Linked DNA regions of Homo sapiens: regions 2 and 3 are each linked to region 1. Evidence: fine-mapped expression QTL. A gene starts in region 1. Each other region holds a variant in brackets. All regions are shown on one strand. Distances are from middle to middle. Region 1 holds the start of CEBPB (CCAAT enhancer binding protein beta). Region 2 has its middle 19 kb from the start of LINC01271. Region 3 overlaps PELATON (plaque enriched lncRNA in atherosclerotic and inflammatory bowel macrophage regulation).

Region 1 (8,173 bases):
GGAGCAGGGATTTGAGATTTGTTCCTCAATTTCGACCCTCTCCACCTCCCTCCTTCCCTAGGTCCAGCCCCTCAGCCTCTGCCTTCAGCAAGTAAATCCTTGAGGTCAAGCCCACATTGCTGTCGCTGCTACTGACAGAAACCATCGAGACCAGTGGGGCTTGGGACTGAACTGACTTCGAGGCTTTGAAGGCATGCCCGGCCAGTTGTCCAGTTGCCCAGGGCTGGGAGGGGACGTGGTCAGGGCCACGCTGCAGGTCCCAGGTTGAAGTGAGGTTATCTGTGTCCAGCAATCTGCATAGCCCTCGAGCCACCATCAGGAGACACTGGCATTAGGGAGGTGGAGCTTATAGGAATCCTCCGCTTTGTGGCGGTGGGGGATGAGTGTCGCTGTCTGTTCCCCACATCCCAGGCTCCCACAGGGAAAGCACAACCAGGCCCCCAAAAGGAAAAGGAGGGGCAAAGCATTTCCCATTCGCGAACCACGGTATCAGCAACTGCTCCTGAGATCCCAGACCGCCCCAGGTCCTTGGCAAACCAGGCTACGATGCCTGCTGCCCCTGAATTCCTCAGGGCAGGGCAACCCCCAACCAGTGTCTTGCCCATAGGGATCGGACAGCCCAAAGCTGCTCCCCACCTCTAAAAACAGGCGTCATAACAATCCCCACCTTCCCAAAGGTTATTGTGAGGTCTAAATGGGATGGGGCAGGTCCAGTGTTTACCAGATGCCGGCCCCTGGCAAGTACTGGCCACACTGGCGCTGCACTGGAGACTGGGGTGCCAAATGCCAGCAGCTTCCCAGCAAAAAATAATAACAAGAGCAAGCGCTTATATAACACTTCTTGCGTGCCAGGCACTGTGGGACGCTGTACATGTATCCACTCACATCCATCTACATCCTCAACTCTCAGGAATGCCATCCAGGGCTGGATGGGAGTAGGGGGTGCGGTGAGAAGCCGGAAGGGGCAAAGGGATCAGTGGGCAGGGAAGAGGAGCCTGTCCCAGGGAATCAGGGCTAGCAGCCCCACGTTTGTGCCTGGGCTCAGCCACCTTGAGCAGGCAGGTGAGGTGGGCTCAGTGTCCAAGTCTGGGCAAAGAGAGCAAGTGATGAGCCTCCCATCCTCAGGAAAGGTAATCAAAGTGTGGGAACCCCTCCCCCACCTCTCTCCACCTGGCCTGGCCTCTCCCCTCCTGCTGGCCAGGGACACACAAACACAGACTCGCCCACACACCCAGGCTCCCCTCTTTAAAATACACATGTATACACAAACTGTGTTTTAAACAACCCACCCCACTACACTGACCAAAAGCATCTGCCCTGACTCGGGCTCAGCAGGACCAAGACCTGAACCCCCTCCTCCTACAGTCACAGGCCTGCCTACCTAGTCCCCAAACACAGGGCAGGGGTCACAGACCTCCCAGCCCTTCCAAACCCAAGCCTGACACTCGGGACCAGCCAGAGGCTCCGGAATCTCTTCTCAAGCAGGGTTCCCAGCCACCCGTCCCGGCGCCTAGGGGCTCTGAGTCAGCCTGAATGCCTGACCCATTACTCTTCTCCCCTTTCCCCCGGGGCTGGAACCCCATCTCAAGCAGACCCTGTGTGTGTGGGAGGGGGAGTAGCAGAGGAGGCAGAAAAACCAGCTGCAACACCCCCACCCAACCACCAAAACCTCCAAAAATAACAGCAGCCCCCCACACACAACCCCCTACACACCAGAAACGCAAAAACAAAATCCTACAAATCCAAAATAAAGTAAAAAAATAAAAAACAAAAGCCAATTACTGCCCCCAAAAGGCTTTGTAACCATTCTCAAAAAAAAGTTTATTAAAAGTGTTCTTAATGCTTGAAACGGAAAAGATTCCCAAAATATACAGACGCCTCTTTTCTCATAGAAATAGATTATTTTTTATAATACAAAAAAAGACCAAAAAACAAAACAAAACAAAACATCAACAGCAACAAGCCCGTAGGAACATCTTTAAGCGATTACTCAGGGCCCGGCTGACAGTTACACGTGGGTTGCGTCAGTCCCGTGTACACACGCGTTCAGCCATGTTTAAACCGATTGCATCAACTTCGAAACCGGCCCGCCCGCCGGCGCCTGGAGAGGGGCAGAGGGAGAAGCAGAGAGTTTATCATTCATCTGTACACATAGACGTTTCTTCTTTAAATAACACCACGGGCGGGAGCCCCATCTGCATGTGCGGTTGGTTTGGACAAAAATATAGATATATATATATAATAAAATATTAAAATTACCGACGGGCTCCCCGCGCTGCCAAGTGCCCCAGTGCCAAAGTTTTGCCGGCGCCGCCGGGGGCGGGGGCGAGGGCGCGGGCGCGGGCGCTCCCCGGAGTCTCAGCCCCGGCCGGCAGGGGGACGCGCGCGGGGGCCGCGCTAGCAGTGGCCGGAGGAGGCGAGCAGGGGCTCGGGCAGCTGCTTGAACAAGTTCCGCAGGGTGCTGAGCTCGCGCGACAGCTGCTCCACCTTCTTCTGCAGCCGCTCGTTCTCGGCCGTGAGCTCCAGGACCTTGTGCTGCGTCTCCAGGTTGCGCATCTTGGCCTTGTCGCGGCTCTTGCGCACGGCGATGTTGTTGCGCTCGCGCCGGATCTTGTACTCGTCGCTGTGCTTGTCCACGGTCTTCTTGGCCTTGCTCTTGACCTGCGAGGGCGCCGGCGCGGCCCCCGCGTAGCAGGCGGTCGGGGGCGCCTTGGCGTCAGCGGGGCTCGGCGTGCCGGGCGGGCTGGACGAGGAGGACGTGGAGAGGCTCCCGCTGCTGCCGCTCGGCACCGCCTGGTAGCCGAGGTAAGCGCGCAGCGCGTACGGGAAGCCCGCCGCCATGCCTGCGCCGCCGCCCGGCGCCCCGGCCTCCTCCTTCCGCTTGCAGTCCGCGGGCTCGAAGCCCGGCTCCGCCTTGAGCTCGGCGGGCGGCGGCGGCGGCGGGGGCGGTGGGTGCAGGGGCGCGAAGCAGCCGGGGTGCAGCGCGCCCTTGGCGGCCCCCAGGCGCCCCAGGCTCACGTAGCCGTACTCGGCCGGCTTCTTGCAGTTCTTGCCCCCGTAGTCGTCGGAGAAGAGGTCGGAGAGGAAGTCGTGGTGCTGCCCGGAGGAGGCGGGCGCGGGGGCGGGCGCGGGCGGAGCCGCCTCGAAGGTGTCCGTGGCCGTGGCGGGCGCCGGGGCCTGCGGCGCGCCCAGCGGCTCCAGGTACGGGCTGAAGTCGATGGCGCGCTCGTGGTCGCCGATGCTGCCCAGCTCGCCGGCGGGGGGGCGCGGCCCGGGTCTGGCCGCGGGGGGCGCCGCGGGGGCCGCCTTGCCGCCGTACGCAGCAGCCAAGCAGTCCGCCTCGTAGTAGAAGTTGGCCACTTCCATGGATTTAAAGGCAGGCGGCGGCGGCGGCAGGGGGAGACATGCTGGGTCCCAGGCCACCAGGCGTTGCATGAACGCGGGTGCCCGGGGAGGGGGCCTGGGGCTGCCCGCTCCGGCCGGCCCGCAGGTGGCGCGGCCTCCCTGCTCTGAGCTGTCGCCGCTGCGTCGCTGCTGCTGCTGCCGCCGCTGCCGGGGTGGCCGCTATTAGTGAGGGGGCTGGTGGCTGGACCCTCGGGTGGGTCCCCTTCCCAGTCCCGTGCGCGGCTCTGACTCGCTAAAGTTTCTCCTGAGCCCGGTTATTTATAAGGGCGGCCCGTAGCAACCGCTGCGTCACGCCGGCCCCTCCCGCCGCGCCGCCGGGACGCGAAGGACACGGCCGCGGCCGCCCGAGACCCCCGGGAGGACGGCGGCAGGGCGCAGCGGAGGGACCGGGCACCCGGAGCGCGTTTTCGGGGGGCCCCCGGGACGCAGGGGCGGCCTCACGCCCCCTGCCCACCCCCGCCCGGCCGCCCCGGGATTGGGAGCGAGAGGGGGCGGTGCGACCCCGCCCCCGGACCGCCCCTCTGGGCTGGAGGCTGTCCTGGAAGGCGGGGGAATCGGAGGAGGGGGCGACCTGATCGCCTTCCCCCCGAGACGCGGCCCCGGCCCGCCCCCTGCTGGAGGAGGCGGAGGTTTCAGGAGGGCCGAGCAGAGCCCCGACGGCCGACCAGGGTCGGCTCCCCGGGCCGAACCCTGGAGACCCCAGCCCGCAGCTCTAGCTCCAGGAGAAGCGACCCATCTCCGTGGCCCTTCCTCCCGTAAACTCCCACCTCCTCCCCAGGTCCCCGGCTTTAGAAAGAAGACTTGACGCCTGTGACGACTCCCCTCTTAAGCCACAGACAATATGAGGACCCCGGGGGTCGGCGCGACCGGGCAGGATCGCGCCCCGCTTGGGGCTGGACCCTGGTCCACGGAGCCCCGCCCCTAGCCCCGCCCACCACACCTGCCGCCTGCTCGAGGCTTGGACACGCCCGGGTCTTCTCTTGCCCCGCGCTGCGCCACCCGACCTGGGCCCTGGGATGGGGCAGGGGCGGGGGGTGCTCGGCCCTGCCACACTGTGTGACCTTGGGTGAGTCACTTCACTTCTCCCAGCTGCAATCCATGAAGGGTGTCGCTACTGTCAGTGGTGGTGGCATTGTTCCCACCAGACTCCCAAACCTAAGGCTTACGTTGTGGGCTGCACATCAGAGAGAACGGGACCCCCACGGATTGTGCCAGTGGAGGCCCAGAGAGAGCATGGCGTGGCATACCAAGGTCACATGGCCGCATGTCCCCCATTCATCCCAAATGAAATGCCCTCATCTGAGCCCTAAGACCTATTGCCAGTCCCAGAGGCCAAAAACTTCTGTTTCTGAAGTTGCTAGGGAGGGACTTAAGCGAGGCCTCACGGGAGGGGGTGGTATGCAGGAAAGAGAAGGAAAGAGAAAGATAAGTTTTTACCAAGTCCCTGCCCTGTGCTTACGGTGGGCCTGCACCCCGAGGTTCAACTTTTTTCACCCCACCAGGAAGATGCTTTTGCTGCTGCCATTTCACAGACGGGAAAGCGACAACGGCCCGCCTGGACTTGAACACAGGCCCAAGGCCTTCTGACCACTTGCCCGCCTCTGCTGGGTAGGCTCAGGTTAGAGGGCCCTTTGCCCTCCCGGACCCATTCCTAGGCCATTGGGGCAGCTCCCTGGGCCCACCTCTCTGCCACTCCTAGCCCAGGCCACCTAGGCAGGAGCTCCCAGCCTGCCCGGGGCTGATCCCCAGCCCACTGACCCCAGCCCTGGCCCCAGCGGGCAGGCGGGCATTGCTCAACCTTTGGTGTTATCTGCTGAGCTGGGGTGACCTCCGCCCCCAAGAGCTGGAGAAATGACATCTCTGGGCACCCTTGGTGGGTAGGAGGCAGGGAGGGAGGGGATAAAACACTGGCCCAGCCTGCTGGCTTTCTGGGTCTTCCCAGCAGCCTCTGGGTTGGGGAGGGATCAAGGCCCAGAGGGGTGCGGCAGCTTCCCTAGGGCCACCCGGCCAGCCCTTCCTCACTGCAAAATGGGACACTCAGGGCTGAGCTAGAGGCCACGGCTTCTGAGAGGCCCTCCCTGTCCCACCTGCTAGTGAATTTCCTTCCCTATCGCCAGCCACCATTATCCTAGCTGTCTACCTCAGTCTCCCTGCAGGCTGCCACTTGGGGAGGGCTGGCCCACGAGGGACTCCTGAGCACAGCACGCTCAACATTTACCAGTGAAGGAATGCATTTGCTGTTCCCTGTGCACCAAGAACACTGTCACCCCACCTCTGCCCAAGGCAGCTCCTCAGGTCTCAGCCCAAAAGCTGCCTCCTCCGGGAAACCCTCCCTGACCTTCCCATGGGAAGTCTAGGCCCTCAGTCACTCCTCTCACACCCCTGCTTCATTTCCGTCACCATTCTCATTATAATCAGAATTATCTTGCCTGCCAGTCTTGCTGTCTGTCCCCACGGCCTTCACTACTGTGTCCCTGGTGCCTAGAACAGAGCCTGGTACATAGAAGGTGCTCGATGAATGGTGAGTGAATAAATGGAGGAGGCTGAGAAGAAGGAGAGGTTCCTCGTTAGCTGGGCTGTGTGACCTTAGGCAAAATGGCTCCCCTCTCTGAACCAAAGCACTCGCCCACGTTCCCTTTCTGGATTCTGAAGAGATGCAGGGAGATATGGGGGAACTGAAGCTAATTGGAGGATTTGCTGTGTGTTCTTAGGCCAAACTTCCACCTTCTCTGAACCACATTCCAAGCTCTTTGCATGTATTAACTCATTTAATCCTACTGATAATTTGTAGGAGGCAGGTCTTTTTTCTTCTTCTTTTTTCATATTTTTCAATGTTTTGTAGAGATGGATATGTCTCACTCTGTTGCTCAGGCTTTTCTCGAACGCCTGGCCTCAAGTGGCCCTCTTGCCTCAGCCTCCCAAAGTGCTGAGATTACAGGTGTGAGCCGCTGCGCCAGGCCACAGTCTTATCATTATCTCCACTTTATAGATGAGGAAACTGAGGCCCAGAAGAGCTAAGTGTGTCTGCTCCAGGTCACATGAAAGGATGAGAAGGAATAAAATCTTTCCAGTCTGACTTTCCCTCTTGGGTTTGTCATAACAGGCCTGGCAATGTGAGTCCCATCTTCTGGATAGAAGAACTGAGGCACAGAGAAGGGTAGACCTGGGGTCACACAGTGCGTTAAGGTGTTACTCGGACCTTGCAGGCCAGCCCCCAAAGACCAGACTCAGCCCCAGCAGGGGTCTAGGCCCTCTGGCCTCTGGGGTGGAACATGCTTGCCACCCTTCCCCACCCTCCACCCCCTGCTGGGGATGACCCATCCCTTCTCAGCGCAGGTCCCACCCCGGTGCCGACCCAGGTGTCCTGCAGGGAAGCTGCAAGCTAGGATGACGTAAGCCCTTGTTTTTACAAGGCTCTTGCTCAACAGGCCCCGCCTGCTGCTCCCCCACCCCCACCCCAGTACTGTTCAGCCTTTCCCCAAGAAGTGGGGATGGTGGGAGCTTGAACCACCACGGCCCAGAGGCCCAGAGTACGTGAGTGGCTGTGTGGGCACAGGAAACCAGGATCCCCCTGGCGCCACCTCTCCCAGTCACCTGCCCTCAGAACCTAGAGCCGGAAAGGATCTCAAACTGGCAGCCAGTGGCCAAATCGAGACCACAGATGTGTTCAATTTGACCCCATAGCGTTTTGCTTGATGTGTGTGTGTTTAAGTGAATTTATTGCCAACATTTAAAAATCAGGAGATTTCACATCAAAATTCAAATTTCCAGCTCCTCTTTTAAAACCTGAAGCTGTGGGCTGGGCCCACGTGGCCACATGGTGGTGGGCAGGAGCCAGGCGGGGGCGGGGAGGGAACAGGCACTTTCCTACCTGGGACACACGTCCTCCTCTGCCCCCAAACTGCTTTTCACAATTCCTCCTCCCCATCTCTGCAGCTTTTCCCTATCCCATTTTCAAGAGGAGAAAACTGAGGCGATTTGCCAAGGGGAGATCCACGTGGCTGCTTTGACAGAGAGTGTTCTGCAAAAGGGCTTAGAAATCAGCCAGCAGGTGGGAAAATATGGCGGAGAGGTGAACCATCAGAACATGAATGGGGGGGTGTCTCTAGTGGGCGTGGGGCAGGGGGATGGCAGGGGGATGGCCTTTCATGCTGCCCTGTGCCTTCCATGCTGTGGCTCTCCGGCCGTGTCTGGTGTCCCCTCTGGGCCTCAGTCCCTGGTATATAAAATGAGGTGATAATATTCTATCTGGGATTCTGGGCCTGCTGTTACCCCTCACTGCTGGCCTTCCCCGACACATTAGAGTTAATCAGATGTCCCTTTCACCCCACAAAGCAGGCAGATGGGGAAACTGAGGCCCGAAGAGGATTAGAACTTCCTACTTCCCCCTCCAAATCCCCCTTGTACCCTTGTGAATGGGTACAAGAGCCAGACTTAAAAGCCAGATTCCCTGATTCCAATGTTTGAGATTTTCCCCATCATGCCTCCTCTCTGAGGCCTCAGTTTCCCCATCTGCCAAGTGGGGCTGGCAGAGATAGATCCCCAAGGGCTGCCAGGCTCCGAGGTTCTGAGATCCAGGATTTTGGAGACGGGAGGTGCTCAGGACCGGTAGTGAAACTTGCCTGAGTATATACTGCCCCCAGGTGGCAGGTTCTGGGACTGCAGGAGCCATTCACATGCGTGAAGATCCGCTGGGCGCCCTTGCTCTGGGATCAGGAAAGGCCGGTGCCATGGATGTGATAGATGCACACAGGGCATCAGCAGGCCG
Region 2 (8,173 bases), 150 kb before region 1:
CTCAGTTTCCACCTCTGCAAAATGGGGAAGTTGCAACCCCTGCCATGGAGTGGGGGTTCCTTGAGGTGGCGCTGTGGAACTGCTTCCTAACACTGGCCACAGCGACTCCCAACACCTCTCAGGCTTGCCCTACAACCCATTTTTCACCTGCAGCCAAAGGCGTTGCCATGAAACAGACCATGTCATGGTCCCATCCAGATCCTCTGATGGCTGCCCCTCACTTTGGACTCTGGCCTGCAGGTGGCCCCTGGTGTCCTCTCACCTCCACTCACTTCACTGCGGCCACCCAGCCTCCTGGCTGCTCTTGCAGATCTGCCAACTCCATCCTGCCCCCCAGCTTGGGCACCCACCATTCCCTCTGCCTGAAGCCCCCTCCCTCACCTATCAGCCACGAATGGAACTCAGCCCGCACTCTGAAACAGAGGCTTTCTTGCCCCCTTGGGATCAAGATGCTCCACAGACAGACCCCGAGGGAGATGGAGACACAAGCAGAGGGACAGGCTGAGACATACATGGGCACGCAAACCAAAGGTGCTCAGAGCCACACGTGGTCCAGAGGTACAGAGAGACACACGGTGCCAGACGTAAAGTCACAGCCACAGCCACGCCCAGGGAGACACATGGAAGCCCCAAGCCACAAGACTATTCAGACACACTGGCCATGGGTGTGCAAGACGTGCATGGGCACACTCAGATAGACACACATGCCCTCACCCCACACACACGTGCACAGGCACACCCAGGGAGCCGCAGCCAGCACCAACGTGGCCCAGAACACCCAGCCACACACATGCACACACACACTTCCCTCTGGCGCCCGGAACAGCCCCGTGCCAAGCGTCCTAGGACAAGGACCGCCTGCAGCCAGCCTTGGCGGGAAGGTGTCCTGGCAAACAATACCTCCCCTCTCCCACCGTCGGCACAGACACAAGGAGCCATTGTCAGCCTGGCACACACCGCGGGGCGGCCTCTCCACAGGCCCTCCTGGCGGGCATGCCTGCACGTGGGGGCGGAAGGCTGGCGGCTCCCCAGGCCCACCTGCTCCCATCTGCCCACCAGGGACCCTGCCTCCTTCAGAGCCTCCTGCCTGGTCCTGCAGACCCTGGAGGGCTTAGCTCCCTGGCCCACTTTCCCTCCCCAACCCCTTGGGACTTACGCATCCTCCTCACAGAGCGGCCAGGGCTTACGAGGGGCAGGGTTTGGTGGCTGAAAACGTGAAATCTAGATTCAAACACACATGCCGTGTGACCTTGGGCAAGTCACTTCCTGTCTCTGAGACTTGGTTTCCTCATCTGTAACATGGGATAATGCTAGCACCTCCCTCACAGGGCCGGTGGCATAACGATTTGAGCCACAGCATACACAACACTGAGGCAGCAGGTGCACCCTGGGATCTGGTAGGCCCAGGCTCCGGCGACAGCCTTGCCATTCTCTTGCTAGGCCTCGGGCAGTTGACATCACCTCTCTTCCCCTCAGTCTTCTCACCTTGAAAGTGGGGATGGTCGTTGGCCCCCCTTTCAGAGGTGTTCCTTCTGTAAGACTCTCACATGGAGGGTTTAGGATGAGCCTGCCACACAGTAGGCACTCAATCAATGCTGGCCATGATCATTGTCTTAATGGCCTGAGGCTTGCTTATTCACTTATTCTTTCTTTTCATTCCTTTCACCAGTCTTTCCTGCGTACCTACCACATGTTGTAAGCTGAGCAGTTCACCCTAAGTTGCTCCCTCCCCCTATGCCCCAATGGGCTCCTGTTAGATGTTTGTTGACTGACTGAATGACAGGAGGCAATTCAGAGACCATCACTACCTCCAGGCAGCACAAGGACACTGACTGAGTGGTCAGGAGCCCTGGGTCAGCCTCTTAACGGCTTGCGATGCCCGGTCAGGAACACAGATCCCTGCTCCACAGCAAGGACGTCATGAAGATTAGGCAGGGTGGAAAAAAGAAAGTGCCACTCAGTGAACACCTACAATGCCAGGGCCACCCTGCCAGCAGTGCCACAATCTTTTCAGGACCTGCCCCTGTGCAGACGGCACCTGTTTGAGCAGCCACACCCCTCTGCATCCCTCTCACCATGCTCCGGCTCATTTAATCCGAAAGTGCTCATCAGCTGCTGGCTTCACGGTTTGAGTTCATTGGCTTGTCCTATTTGGTGTCTGTGCCCCCGGACCAGGGTCCCTCGACCTTGGCTTGACTGACATTTGGGGCCAGATCATTCTGCACCTGAAGGCTGCCCTGGGCTTTGTAGGATTGGTTCAGCAGCCTCCTTGGCCTCTCCCCACTAGATGCTGATAGCACCCTCCCTCCACCCAGCTGTGACAACCACACACATCTCCAGACATAACCAAGTGTCCCATGGGGAACAAAACCACCTCTAGCTGAGAACCAGAGGGCAGAGATTTTGATTTGTTTGGTTTCTTGCTGTATGTCCCTGTGTATACAGTAAGTATCAATACATATTTGTCGAGTGAATCTTGAACAGATGCATCTCACCGACTCACGCTGTTCCCCTTTGCTGGAACGCTTTTCCACTGCCCTTTTCTGGCGCACTCCTACTCATACTTCAAGACCCTGGCAAGGAAATGATATGAGGAAAGTGGGGCATGCAGGGACTGGGTGAACAGGAAAGTACCTACTATGTGCCACTAAGAAAGGGCCTCCCGCAACCCCACTCCCAGGCCTCCTGTGTCCAGTAGGAATGTGGGCCCAGTATGGCCACATCTTCCCATTTTTCAAGAGAAGCCAGAGAAAAGGACTTTATGTGAAATCTCCTGGCATGTCAGATGTTGGCAATTGATTCACATTAAAAAAAAATACTTTAAGGACCAAACTAAACATATCTCCAGAGTGGACCTGTCCCATGGGCAGCTGTCATGGAGGTCTGCTCTAGGAGGCTTGATGGGTACGAACACCTTTGAGGATAACGAAGCTGAAGCAGTTCTTCCTGGCGTCTCACTTGCGTGCCCTCTGTTGTAGCCATTGTGGGAGGGGTTCTCATACAGCTGGGGCAGCTCTGATGGGGGACAGAAGGGCAGAGGTAGCGCCCCCAGCTCTGAGCCGCACCCACAGGCAACACCCAGCCCACCCCAGACCAGCTCCTTGCCCAGCTCAGCCCAGAGTCCAGGGTGGATGGAGTGTGGGGAGGACTCATCATGGGGGCTGTGAGAAGCCTGTTTATGGCTCCAAAATTCCTATGCCCCAGGCCTAGGGGAAATTAGTGCTCGTATGAGGCTGTTCACCTCCAAACTCCTTGGCCTCTCCAAGAAATTAAAAACAGGGAAACCGAGGCAGGACTGAGCTTCATGGAGACCTGGGCCTGCAGGCCTGGGCAGGCTTGGAGGCAGCCAGGAGGCTGACTTCTCTGGAAAGTCCCTTGTATTCGAGAACTGGCGGGGTGCCGGGGAGCGAGGACACCAGGGGTCTCCTAGTCTCAGAGCCTTCTGCCGGATCCAGGAGCTCCTCAAGCGTCTGCCCTTTCTGGGACAGAACTTTCCAGCAACAGAAAGTTGAGGAAGCCCCTCTCTGGAAACCCTGAGCCTCCTTGATGGGGCTTGCATTCTGCTTTGGGGCAGAATGTGGGACTGTGGGACAGGAGGACGGGGCGTGAACCCCAGTCCTAAGCCCAGATGTCGGCTGGAGATCCTCAAAGCCAGGGCCTCTTCTCAAGAGTCTGATGGCCCCACCAGCCATTTCTCTCACCCAGACCCCAAGTCAGACTGGACACTGTCACCATTGTCCTGGAGGCCAAGAGACCCGCAGACCAGAATTCAAAGCCTTGCCCCGCTGCGGGCTGAGACAGTCGCTTGGGCTCTGTGGTCTCATTCCTGCATCTGTAAAATGCATCCTTCCATTGTAGGAATTCAACAAGCACATGACATGGGGCTGGTGCTGGGCAGAGGAGAGAAGAAGTGACAGTGAGCACGCACCCTGGGCTGGTGCTGAACCCGCCACACACGTCCTTCTTCCCTTCTCACCACAAAACCCTGCATCTGTTCATTCAATGCTGGATGAGTGCCCCCTATGTGCCAGGCTCTGAGATTTAATGGAGGACAGTGGAGAACTGGCCTCTGCCTGCTGGGAGCTTACAGTCTGGCCAATGGGGAGTTATGAACCCCCTAAATTATTGTGTCAAGTAGTGGTCAGTGTTATGGGAAAACATTCACGCAGGGTGAAGAGGTAAGGCCAGGGGAGCAATTTGGAAGGGCCGGGGGTCAGAGCAGGACCCCCGGGG[T/C]CATTTAAGCAGACACCCAGATCAGGAGAGGGAAGAAGCCCTGTGGCTATCTGGAGGAAGGATGCTGAAGGCAGCGGAAACAGTGTGTGCAAAAGCCCCGAGGTAGGCGTGTGCTTAGCATGTTGGAGGAACAAAGAGGAGCCCAGTGTGGCAGGGGTAGAGGGAACCAGAGAGAGTGAGTAAGAGGAGATGGGCCAGGCGCGGTGACTCACACCTGTAATCCCAAGCACTTTGGAAGGCCAAGGTGGGCAGATCACTTGAGCTCAGGAGTTCGAGACCAGCCTGGGCAACATGGCAAAACCCCATCTCTACTACAAAAAATACAAAAATTAGCTGGCCGTGGAGGCATGTGTCTGTAGTCCTACCTATCTGGGAGGCTGAGGTGAGAGGATGACTTGAGCCCAGGAGGTTGAGGCTGTAGTGAGATGTGTTGGCACCACTGCACTCCAGCCTGGGTGACAAAGTGAGACCCTGTCTTAAAAAAAAAAAAAAAAAAAGAGACAGAGAGAGAGAGATGAGGTTATAAGGGAAGCATGGGAAAGATCTTGTAGGGCCTGGTAGGCCACAGAGATCTTTGACTTTCTGCCAAGTGAGGTGGGAGCCGTGGGAGGGTTTTGAGCACAGGAAGGTCATGTCCTGACCTCCTATACTCATCCTCATCTTAAAGGTGAGGAAACTGAGTCTCAGAGAGGTGAAGTTACCCACCCAAGGTCACACAGCCAGCAAGTGGCAGAGCTGGAGTTTGCCCCCACATCCCTGTGGCTCCCAAAGCCAGCCTCTTCCCATCCCATCAGCTGCCTCTGTGTCTGGCGTGAGTCAGGAGGCTGGATTGCTGGGAGGGGGAGAGCTTTTTAGAGCTGCTTTTTGGAGCCTCCTGGCTCTGCCTGGCACATCCCCTCCTTCCCCACCCATGCCTTCTCCCTTGCCCTCAGCCACCCCCAGCTGCCTGCGGTGAGTGCCTAACATTTAAGGCTATCCCCTCCCAAGTGCAGATTGGATTTTTTTCTTTCCATAAGTCCCCATTATGCCCCAGTAGACTGGATTTTGGGCAATAGAAAAAACGAGCCTAAAGAACTCCAGCGCTAATTGGGGGTGACAGGCAGGGGCTCGGGGCCTCTGGAGCAGCCTGGCTCTGTCTCTAATTTGCAGAGTGGCCAGGGTAAGTCCCTGGCTTCCAAAGTCATGCTTGTTTGAAGGACAATCACTTTCTTTTTCTTGTAAAAGGAAGATAAATTGTCAGCCTGTCGGTTTCATTATGAGCTCGTCCGCTGTCTTTCCAGTAACTGAGGGCGAGAGGCTGAGCCGCTGCCCAGAGGCTGCCTGTGAGGCCTTGGGGGCTGTGGTTGATGCCACCTGGCCTCCTTCGCATCACCTCCCTCTCAACACCCCTCCCACCCCCTCCAATAATTGTGGTATTTGGTTTTCCCTCAACACCAAATGTGAAACTCTCCTGGAGGGAGTGCAAAAGGAAGTCTGTGAATCTCTGAACTGTGGTTGAATGAAGGTATTCTTAGGCGCCTGCTTGCAAGGATGGTGAACTTCTGGTGCTAAAAGCAGAATTGCTTTTCAGTAAATGTTATTACTCAAAAGGAAGTTGTTACCACCACAGCCACCTCGAGCCTCTTCCAACTGCCACTCTGTCTGCCAGGCCAAGTGGGGAAAGGGTCTCTCAGTGGCTCCCAATGACCCCATCCAGCCCCCAGGGGAAGGTCTTGCTATCTCAGCTGACCCTGGAGGCCTGAAGCTGAAGTGCAAACAACCACAGTCTGCCTAGGCAGAGTATCTCAAGGTAGGGGCTGTTTGCTGACTCAGCATTTAAAAGTCCCAAAGCTTGAGTGATCTTGGCTGAGCTGGGCTGGAGCTACAGGTGGGGTTGGGGGCACACAAGAAAGCTGCCCGTTGGCTGCAAGGTTGGCTGTTTTTTGAGAGCTGTTGTCCATCTTGGCAATGCACCTTGCCTAACCCCTATTTCCTCTTCTCTAAAATGGAAAGGTGATCATACCTCAATGGAAAGAGCTAGCATATTGATTACTCTAGTAGATACTTAATAAGTGGTGAGGTTATTATCAACAGTGAAAATGATTCTGGATTTAAATCAGACAGACCAGGGCTCAGATCTCAGCTCTGCCACCTACTAGTTGCACAACCTTGGACAAGTCCATTCCCCTCACCAAGTCTCGGTTTTCTCTGGATCACGCAGGAGTGATTATAGCACCTACTGCTCAAAGTTGTTGGGAGAATTCCGTGAGCTGCAGCACGTAAGTCACAAGGCACACAATAGGTATGCAGTAGGCATGGGTTCCACTCCTGCTCCATTTTGCCTTACAGAGGATCACCCCCCAGGCTGTGTCCCCACCTGAGCAGTCCCAACCACAGGCTCCAGGTGGAGAGACACCCATGAAAGTTTGCACCCACCGGGGTCCAGAGGGCAGACAAGAAGCGACCAGGCCAAACTCAGGGGAGTGGAATGGACCACTCAGCAGACACTTCCCTGCAAGAAAGAAGTCAAAACAAACCCCCTGGCTGGTGAGACATGATCCCAATCTAGAGCTCTCAGAGGATGCTCTCGGGTCCAATCCTCTGCCTGCCTCTACCTGTAGCCTTTTCTACAGCCCGGAAAAGTGGCAATTTCATTTACTGGGCAGCCACTGCAAGTGAGCATTGTGCTCTGCATGTCTCATGAATCACGTCATCGTGTCCCCCCAGCAACCCCACGAGACAGTTCCTCTCATTGCTCAGCACCTGCAGGTGTGGAAACTGAGGCCCAAGGAGGTGAAGGGACTGGTAGCTGAGATTTGAACCCAGCCCATCCCATTGTCAAGTCACACACATAATCACCGCACTACTTCCGTTATCTGAGAACAGTGTGTCTGTGTTACCAAAGATATAATTATATTTAGTAGTGTCTGGGTATAGAAAATTGTATAATATATTCTTTTTAAAATGTATTCTTTTGAGATTATTATAGATTTACATGCAGTTGTAAGAAATAAACAGAGAGAGTCCATATACCCTTTCCAGTTTCCCCCAATGTTAACAGTCACAATAAAGATATTGACAGTGATATAGTCAAGATACAGACATTTCTATCACCACGAGGATCCCTCATTGCCCTTGTATAACCAAACCCATCTCCCACCCCCAACCCTGCCCCCGAGCCATGGCAACCACTAATCTGTTCTCCATTTCTATAATTGTGTGGTTTCAAGAATGTTACATAAATGGAATCATATAGTTTATGTAACCTTTGAGGACTGGTTTTTTTCACTCAGCATAATTCTCTGAAGATTTATTCAAATTGTGTGTTATCAATATTTTATTCCTTTGTATTGCAAGTAGCAGTCCATAGTATGGATATAACACAGCTTTTTTTAGTTAAAAAAAACCATAGACAGGCTTCCGGGTGGTTTACCAGTTTTTGCCTATTATGAAGAGAGCTGCTATGAAGATTTGAGCATAAGTTTTTGCACAAACATAAGTTTTCATTTTTATGTCCAGGATTGCAACTGCCAAGTCATAAGGCAGTTTTTAAAAAACTGTTTTCCAGAATACGGTACCGTTTTACATTCCCATCAGGAATGTATGAGTGTTCTAGTGTCTCCATTCCTCACCAGTGATTGAATGCGAAAGTTCCCATCGTTTTTTATTTTGGTCATTCTGATAGGTGTGTAGCAATATCCGATTGTGGCCTTAATTTGCATTTCCCTAATGGCTAATGATGTTGAACATTTTTTCATGTGTTTATTTCCATCTGCATGTTCTTTTCAGTGAAATATTTGTTTGTGTCTTTTGCTCATTTTCTATTTGGATTTTTTTAACTGCTGACTTTTGAGAGTTCTCGAGAATTCCGTCAAGTTTTAAGAATTCTAGGTACTAGTTCTTTGTCAGATATGCAGTTTGCAAATATATTCTCCTAATCTGTAGCTTGTCTTTTCCTCCT
Region 3 (8,173 bases), 86 kb before region 1:
TGATGAGAGGGGGGCCTGGGCCTGACACCAACAAGCACCTAAGAGCCCTGGGCTGGGGGCAGGAGGTGAGCTCAGGGCTCCTCTCCCCGGAGAGGTCACTATTCATTTATTGGTTCTTTTAAGAAACATTTATTAAGCACCGACTGTGTGCCAGGCATTGCACTAGGTGCATAAGGTAGACAAAAGTCCCTGTCCTGAAGGAGCTAATGTTCTACTGGGGAGATAGGCAAGAACCAACAAGCAAATTCATACGAAATGTGCCAGGTGGAGAGAAGGCAACCAGTGGGGTAGTGGGGGTCGATAAATCCAGGCAAGTTGAGGGGAGGAAGTAAGGGTGTAGGGTGTAGGGTGGCCAGTGCAGGGAAGCTCCTTCGAATTCTTGTCATTTCTCCAGAGGCCATGACAGTTTTTATATTTAAGCCAGCTGCTGATGGTGGGGGACTCATTATCGATGCTCCCTGAGTTTCCGGCTCCCTGCAGGGCACTCTCATCAATTTCATCACATTGAATCTCCTCTGCAACCCCAGAAGACAGGTACTCATTTTCATTTTTATTTATTATTAGTATTGTTATTTTTAGAGATGGGGCCTCAATCTATCACCCAGGCTGATGTGCAGGGGCATAATCATAGCTCACTGCAGCCTCAAACTCCTGGGCTCAAGCAATCCTCCCGCCTCAGCCTCTAGAATAGCTGGGACTACAGGCACACACCACCACACCCGGCTAATTTTTTTAGAATTTTGTAGAGACAGGGGTCTCACTATGTTGCCCAGGGCTGATCTCAAACTCCTGGTCTCAAGCAATTCTCTCGCCTCGGCTTCCCAAAGCGCTGGGGTTACAGGCATGAGTCACCACACATGGCCAGAGACAGGTACTCTTATTGTCCCCATTTCCCAGATGAAGAAACTGAGACCCAGAGAGATGAAGTGACTTGCCCAAGGTCACATTGCTGGAAAGGGGCAGAGCCAGGATTCAAATGGGGCCAAACAGGGATATAATCCAAGGTGAGATGGGCCGATACGATACCAGGGCAGGGGCTTGAAGGGGAGACAATCAAGCAGGGAACAGGGCTTATGCCAGAGCCCTCAGCAGCCAACAGGTTAAGGGCCCGGGAATCTGGGTCTCTGGCCCCAGATAGGGTGACAGCCACACCCAGGCTCAGCCTCTGGCCCGCGCCGCCTGCTGGGAACACACAGTCCTCAGGACTAAGAGGCTCAAAATAGAAAGTGCAGGACCTGGGTCGAAGCCTGGAATGCCCCAGGCAGGCAGACCATGACTCCTGGAAGGGCCCAAGGCTGCAGGGCTGGGGCTGGCGGGGCGAGAGTCACTGGTATCCACTTGTTAGAGCCTGCGTCTCATCTTTGTTATTCTCCTGATGCAGTTTCCAAGACGCCAACTCCAGGATGTGACCAACCCGGGCTCCTCTCCTGGCCTAATCTCAGACCAGCTGTGTGGCCTTGGGCTGGTCACCTACCCCAGAGGACCTCAGTGTCCTTATCTGCCATCGGCTCATAGAGTTGTTCATTCAGGCAGTCAGCCAATGTGTGTCGAGCACTTACCATCTGCCAGGCACTGGGATGGCACTGGGGGCACACAGAGAACACAACAGACAAAAATCCCTGCCCTCATGACTAGGTAGAAAGACCCTACCTTGCTCAGAAGGAAGTCGGGGGGGTGGTCAGGGATGGCTTCCCATGTGGGCACCCGAAGGAGTTGTGGGAGGGAGCCCTGTGGATGCCTAGGAGAAGTGTTCCAGGCAGAGGAAACAGCCAGTGCAAAGGGCCCGGGGCAGTGTGGGCCTCAGGCTGTTTCAGGAGCAAGGAGGAAGCCAGCATGGCTGGAGGGTGAGTGAGGAGGAAGGCTGGGAGAGGAGACAGAGGGAGGTCAGAGAGGAGGCCCCGAGAGCCAAGGAAGGAATCCGAGGGTTTATTCTCCAAGCAACAGAGATCCCTTAGAGAGGACTTTGCTGTGGACTGATGTGGGCTGGCCCACAGTTTTAATAGCTCCCTCTGGCTGAGTGTGGAGAGGGGATTTCTGGAAGACCAGGGAAGAGACTTCTGTGCCAGCAGAGATGAGCAGCAGTGGTGGCAGTGGAGGCAGAAGGAAGGGCTTGGGTCGGGGGTCTGTTTGCAGGAGCTGCTGGGAGGACCTGCCGAGGGAGAGAAGGGAAGAGGGCATGGGTGGGGGTTGAACAGAGACCCCCTCCACCCTCCAGGCCTCAAGGAGCCCCACAGGAAGTGGGTGGTCAGGCGGCCCAGCTGGGAAGGCTGACTGGTTTGTCCAGCCTGAAGCCCACGACCCTCTCCCCACCCTCTGCCCATGGCAGCCCAGGGCTAGAAATGTACCTGGAATGTCAGCCATGAAGCCCGGCCAGACAGTGCCCATGGGACCTGCTGGGGGCCAGGTGAGCACCCTGGCCACAGCCCTGCCTACAAGGGTAATCTCTCGGACCCATTGACCAGGGTAAGTGGTAATTACAGGCCCTGGAGCAGAGAGGGTGGTGACCTCCAGCCAAGACACGCAGGGACTGCGATTCGCACGCAGGACCCCTAACGAGGCACACCCTCTTTGTTGCTGAACAGGCAACAAACTGCCCCAGAGACCAGGGCGTGTCAGCAGAAAGAGCACTGGGCTATGAGTCTGAGACCCCCAGGGCCTTCTCTGAACCTTAGCCCCCTCATCTGCCAAAGAAATACTTATCCATGCACGCACGCTTGCATTGCTTCCCAAGTGTTTACTGGGCACTTGTCCTGGACAGGCGCTGTGCTGGGGGCTGGGTGTACAGCAGTGAACAAAACACACAAAAATCCCCACCTGGGCGATGGTGACATTCCACTGGAAAGAGACAGACAAGAAACAGGATATACCAGCAGGTTAATTTCTAGGATACGTGCTAAGTCCTAGGAAGAAATAAAAACAGCATGAGGCCATAGGAATGAGGGGCTGGTCAGAGAAGGTGTCCCCAGGGGTGACTTTGGAGCAGAGGCCTGACCCTAGACAAGGATCCGCCATGGGGAGAGCTGGCGAGAGTGTCCTCTGTTCCAGAGGGAAGAGTGGGTGCGAAGTCAATGAGGCAGCAGCAGGATAATTGGCAAGTTTATGGCAGAGAGATGAGGCCACCGTGGCTGTGGGTGAACAGAGAAGGGAGAGGCAGTGAGGTCAGGCGGGGCCAGGGCAGAGATCCTGCAGGCCCTGTGGGCTTCTGCTCTGAGTGAGTTGGGAGCCATAGAGGGTTCTGAGCAGAGAAGGGATAGGATCTAACTTGAGCTCTTACAGAATTCCTCTGGCTTAGGAAGGCGAGAGAGGAGGCAGGGAGACCAATGAGGAGACGACTGCAAACATCCTAGCTGGACCAGGGCAGGGCAGGGTAGTGGGGGTGGACCCTTGGACATGTGGATGAGTTTGCTGATGGGCTGACCATGGGAACAAGAGGGAGAACCCAGGTTGGGGGCCTGGGCAGCCAGGTGGCTGAGGTTGCCATCGCTGTAGCAGGGAAACTGCAGGTTTGTGGTGGGGGTAGACAGAGCTCCCTCTGAGCATGAGGCCCCACCCAGAGTAAAAGAAGGACTCCCAGTCCACACACCCCTGCCTCAAGCACAGATCAGTGAAGGGATTCTGTGGACAGGTGGCCCTGGAAGCTGTGATCTGCAGGGGCGAGGTGCCTGCTGTCTACCTGGTGAAAGTCCTACCAATGCAGCTCTTGAGGCTGCCCAGTCTCACACCCCAGGGAGCAAACTTGGCACCTGTTCTTTGCCCTACCCTGAACATCCGCTGGGCTCCCGGGGTTGGTCCCGATGTTCATTTGGAATCTCAGGGGTGATGGGTGGGGAAGGTGGAAAAACGCTGTACCTCTTTCCCACCCATCCCTGTCCCCCGTCAGCCAAACAGGGCTGAGGACTCGCGATCATTCTTCCTCTGCG[C/T]CCCTGTCCCCATACCTCTCAGAGACAGCGTGACTTGTGGCCTCTGCAGCCAGGAACGTGCTCTGGTCCCGTCATCTCACACTGCCCCATCCCCCTCATAGTCACTTGGTTTTCTGCACGTAAGTTCCCTTTTCATAGATGGAGGAACTGAGGTTCCGAGAGGTGGGGCAGGCTCCCAAGTTCACACTCAGGTTAAGTGGCAGGGGCGGGATTCACACTCAGGTCCATCTGATTCCAAAGCTCTTAAGCCCTGAGCATTATAGCTGCTGGCTTAGGTCGGCTCCCAGAAGCTGACCCAAGACAAGGTTTTGGGTGCAAGTGGGATATTTGGGAGGTGATTCTAGAAACACTGGGAAGGAGTGAGGAAGTGACACAAGGAAGGTAGATGAGCAGGTCTCCTCAGTGGGCAACAGGAGCCCAACCCCCTAGAGGCCTCTGGGACAACTCGCAGAAAGTACCTTCCCACTGTCCCCTGAGCCAGAAGCAAGGAAGCTGAGTGGGGGGACAAACAGACCCCACCTCTACTGGCAGGGGTCTCTCACTTGCTTCCCACACTCTTGTGGCCAGAGGAAGCCCTTGGGCAAGAGATTCAGGATAGCAGCTGCAAGGGCGACCTCCCAGGTGGGCACCAACAGCTTCTGAGCCCCCCAACTTCCAGGACAGCACTCACCCCAGAGAACAGGATGATGTTCAGTAGGATGTGACTGTGCTGCGTGACCTTGGCAAGTAGCTTCATCTCTCAGAGCCTCAGTTTTCTACTCTGAAGAAAGGAATCATTAAAAAAAAACAAAAAAAAAACTGTTTCACAAGGGTTGCCGGGGATTCGATGGGACATGAGGTAAAGGTCTGAGAATCACACGTGGCACATAGGAGGTGCGTTTTATGTATTTGTGGTTAAATGAGAGCATGCCTGGTGCATAGAAGCCACTCCACTATAACAGCTATTATCATTATTATTATAGTTTTGTTGTTGTTGTTGTTTAGGACCTCTCCAAGACTGCGCAAGCCTAGGTCTGCTCTGTGGGGACAAGATGGTGGCTGGACAACCTCCCCAGTTTCCTGGGTCCCACAGCCTCTTGCTTAAGGCTGCCTGAACTTTGGGGAAACAGAGGAGGAGGAGAAGGAGGAGGAAGGGGCGGAGGCTTAGGCCAGGCCTGCTAGAGGTAACCGCGGGCAGTGACCCCGCCTGAGAGGCCCCCATTCACCCGTCCACCCATCGCCAGAGCTGCCTGCCCATTCCACACAGGGGACGCCTCGTCTTGCACAACACAGGAAGGAGGAGGCCTGGGTGGCGGTGGGTGACGCCGGGACCCCGTGTCCACCCGGCTGCAGACAGGATGGGCAAGGGAGGCCCCGCCAGGCTTCCTGTGTGCCGAGCACACTGGGCAGAAAGGAGAAGTGGGGTCCAAGGTCACTGGGAGCTCTGGGCAGCACCTTCCCCTCCCTGGCCCAACTGTTCCGCCTGTTCTCCCTGACTCAGGCACCCAGGGTTCAAACCCCACCAGCTCGGCCATGTACCAGCTGCATGACTCTGGAACACGCAGCTCTCAGGGCCTCTGTGTCAGTCACTGCCAGGGTGCGGGGAAGCCCTCTGGGGGCTTGTCATCATCATCCCCATTTCACAGATAAGGAAACCAAGGCCATGGGGTATTTTCTCTCTCTCTTTTTCTCCTTTTTTTTTTTTTAAGACAGATGGGGGGTCTTGCCCTGTTGCCCAGGCTGGAGTGGAGTGGCACAGTCATAGCCCACTTCAGCCTCAATCTCCTGGGCTCAAGCAATTCTCCCACCTCAGCCTCTCAAGTAACTGGGACTACAGGCGTGCACCACTACACTCAGCTAGTTCTTTTTTTTTCCCCTCTAGAGATGGGTTCTCACTCTGTTGCCCAGCCTGGTCTGGAACTCCCGGCCTCAAGCGATCCTCCCACCTCGGCCCACCATCATAAGGTATTTTCAAACAGCATTTGTTATACTTGAAGATTTAGAGGTACAACAGGGGAGTGCAGACCTGAGGACCTACTGGGTGCCGCAGACACACCTATGAGGCCAGCGTGGCCCCTATCCTCCATCCTGGGTCCACAGCAGGCATCACTAATCAATAATGAGTCTCCTTCCTAGTATCATAGATGCAGCCTCAGAGCCCTGCTCAACACAGCTCTTCGGCCACAGTCTCCATCCGAGCACCCAAGGCCTGAGTCAGTGGGGAAGGTAGATCTGCCTGCTCCATCCAACAACAAACTGGACCAGAGGAAAAATCTGCCCAAGAGCGAGGCTGCCCTCTGGCAAGCTACCTTGGGGTACTTCCCTCGAACTTGTCTCCCCCAGCTGGCTGGGAGTCTCAGGCTCGCTTCCTTGGATGCAAACTTGATCTGGAAAAGGCAGCTCAGAGGAAGCATCTGCCGGCTCCCAGGCAGCCAGCAGGGCTGGAGCAGGGGGTGCTGGAGCAGAGGCAGAATTAGGAGATCAGCAGGGCCCAGGCAGACCTGGGGCAGGAGGTGGTGGGAAACAGTGACAGAGGAACTGGAGCTGGGCCTGTTCCTGGAGAGGAAGGGTCCAGGACAGGGCAGGGAACCAGCTGGGACTCGGAGAGGCCAGATTGCCAGCAGGTTGTGGGCCCCACCGGCAGTGCCAGGGAAAGTCCAGTGACCCAGAGTGCCCGGGGCCGGGGGGGATTGTGTAAAAGGAAAAATGAAACTGAATGCAGAGCCCTGGGCCTCCCGCCAGGCCTGGCCATCTCTCCCCACATTCACTGGCATCGCCCCCGTCCAAGTTGCCATCCTCGCTCGCCTGGACATCTGCGGCCATCTCCGGCTGGGTGTCCCTGCTTCACACAGCCAGAGGGATCTGAAATGGGATCCCGCCCAAGTCTCTTCCCTGCTTTGACCCTCCAGTGACTGCCCATCCCATTGGAGATGTGATTCAGAGCCCACCCCTGGCCCCGAGCCCTGGATGTATGGCCCCAGCCTGGTCTCCACCACCCTCTCCTGCTTCTCTCCCCTACATTCATGCCCCGCCAGCAACACTATTTCCTTCCTGTCCCTTAAATCTATCAACCTCATTCCCCACTCCGGGCCTATGCCTTTGCTGTGCTGCCTGTGACACCTTCCCCCATATTTTCCTTTGGTGGCTGCATCTCAGTGAGGTCTCAATAAATACCCTCCCTCCAGAACCCCCAACCCCAACCTACCCCAGACTCCTTCCCTGTCACCCTCCACCATATGCCTCTGGCATGTGTTTGTAGTATCTGTGTCTGGAAGTGTCTGCTTATTTGTTTACTTGTCTTTCTCACCAGAACATCAGCTCCACGAGGGTAAGGGTAATGTCCACCCTGGTCACTGCTGTATCCCCAATGCCTGGCACAGTACTGGACACAAAGTAGGTGCTCAATAAATATTTGTTGAAAGAGACTGAGAGGAAGCTGCTTAAATCAGCTAGAAGATTCTCACTGAGACCTTCCAAGTCCCCACGTGCCATCCCTCCCTGGGGATGACAGGCTGTTCCCCACCATATGTCAGTCTCTGAGTGGTGCACGGTGTTGGAGAGAATTCTGGTTGCAGCAGGAAAGATGATCAATTAGTGATGTCTGCCACAAACCAGGAAAGGCAGGGCAGCTCCAAAGAGATGTGGGCTCCAAAGGTGACGGGGGCATTTTTGTCTTGTTTGTTCATTGCTCCACAGTACCAGGACAATGCCTGAAATCTAATAGGTGCTCAATAAATATTTGTGGAATGTCATATACATGGGTTCCTTATCTAATTGGCTACTCCTTTCAGGGAGAAAAACACTTTTAGCTTATTCAACCAACAACTGCTGGCTAGCCATTCAGTGAGGACCCACTGTGTGCTAATCTGAGAACATTCCAGAGAGACTGATCCTCCATTTACAGAATAGGAAGCCAAGGTCTTCTTGGGACTTGATGGAGGTCACCAGCTGGGTTCAGCTGACCCCAGAGTTCTGTAAGAACCCAGACTCGAGGCCTGGGGTGGGAGGGTGAGGCCTCCCCAGACTCCTGCTCCCCACCCCTGGGCATCCCCAGCCCCCTCCCTAGGGCACGGAGGGGTGAGGACAGGCGGCTGCTGCTTCCCTTTTGGGGCATGTCACAGGGCTGTGGTTAAACGGAAGCAGGGCCCCTGCCCATCCCGAATGCAGGCCCCCGAGGGCCCCACCCTCCCCATTCCCTGCCCAGACTCTTCCCAGCTGACCAGGGGCATCAGTTCCCCGTTCCTCTTTTCTCTGAGCAGAAGGAAGTGGGTGGG

What was found. PIP is the estimated chance that this variant, and not a neighbour inherited with it, causes the effect.
Region 2: its variant is fine-mapped to the expression of CEBPB in whole blood (INTERVAL, PIP 0.95).
Region 3: its variant is fine-mapped to the expression of CEBPB in whole blood (TOPMed, PIP above 0.99).

Annotation. Positions count from the first base shown.
Region 1 is chr20:50,186,296-50,194,468 of GRCh38, reverse strand. It overlaps CEBPB (CCAAT enhancer binding protein beta), which reads right to left and starts at 3,639. Exons shown (of 1, transcript NM_005194.4): 1 at 1,801-3,639. The coding sequence starts at 3,435. The coding sequence ends at 2,398. CEBPB-AS1 (CEBPB antisense RNA 1) reads left to right here and starts at 2,400. Exons shown (of 7, transcript NR_125739.1): 1 at 2,400-2,805; 2 at 3,047-3,201; 3 at 4,184-4,471; 4 at 4,908-5,013; 5 at 5,842-5,926; 6 at 7,342-7,456; 7 at 8,049-8,173. RefSeq lists enhancers at 371-932, 7,785-7,874 and silencers at 2,297-2,406, 2,827-3,266, 3,407-3,616, 3,443-3,737, 3,697-4,106.
Region 2 is chr20:50,336,478-50,344,650 of GRCh38, reverse strand. No RefSeq gene overlaps it. Among named protein-coding and RNA genes, the nearest start is that of LINC01271, 19 kb to the right of the region's middle. RefSeq lists an enhancer at 5,338-5,537. The variant T/C (reference allele first, on the strand shown) is at 4,234.
Region 3 is chr20:50,272,153-50,280,325 of GRCh38, reverse strand. It overlaps PELATON (plaque enriched lncRNA in atherosclerotic and inflammatory bowel macrophage regulation), which reads right to left. Exons shown (of 4, transcript NR_170992.1): 2 at 4,591-4,675; 3 at 2,713-2,835; 4 at 538-2,149. Among named protein-coding and RNA genes, the nearest start is that of PELATON, 8.8 kb to the right of the region's middle. RefSeq lists enhancers at 1,020-1,314, 2,317-2,854, 4,699-5,198, 5,199-5,700. The variant C/T (reference allele first, on the strand shown) is at 3,921.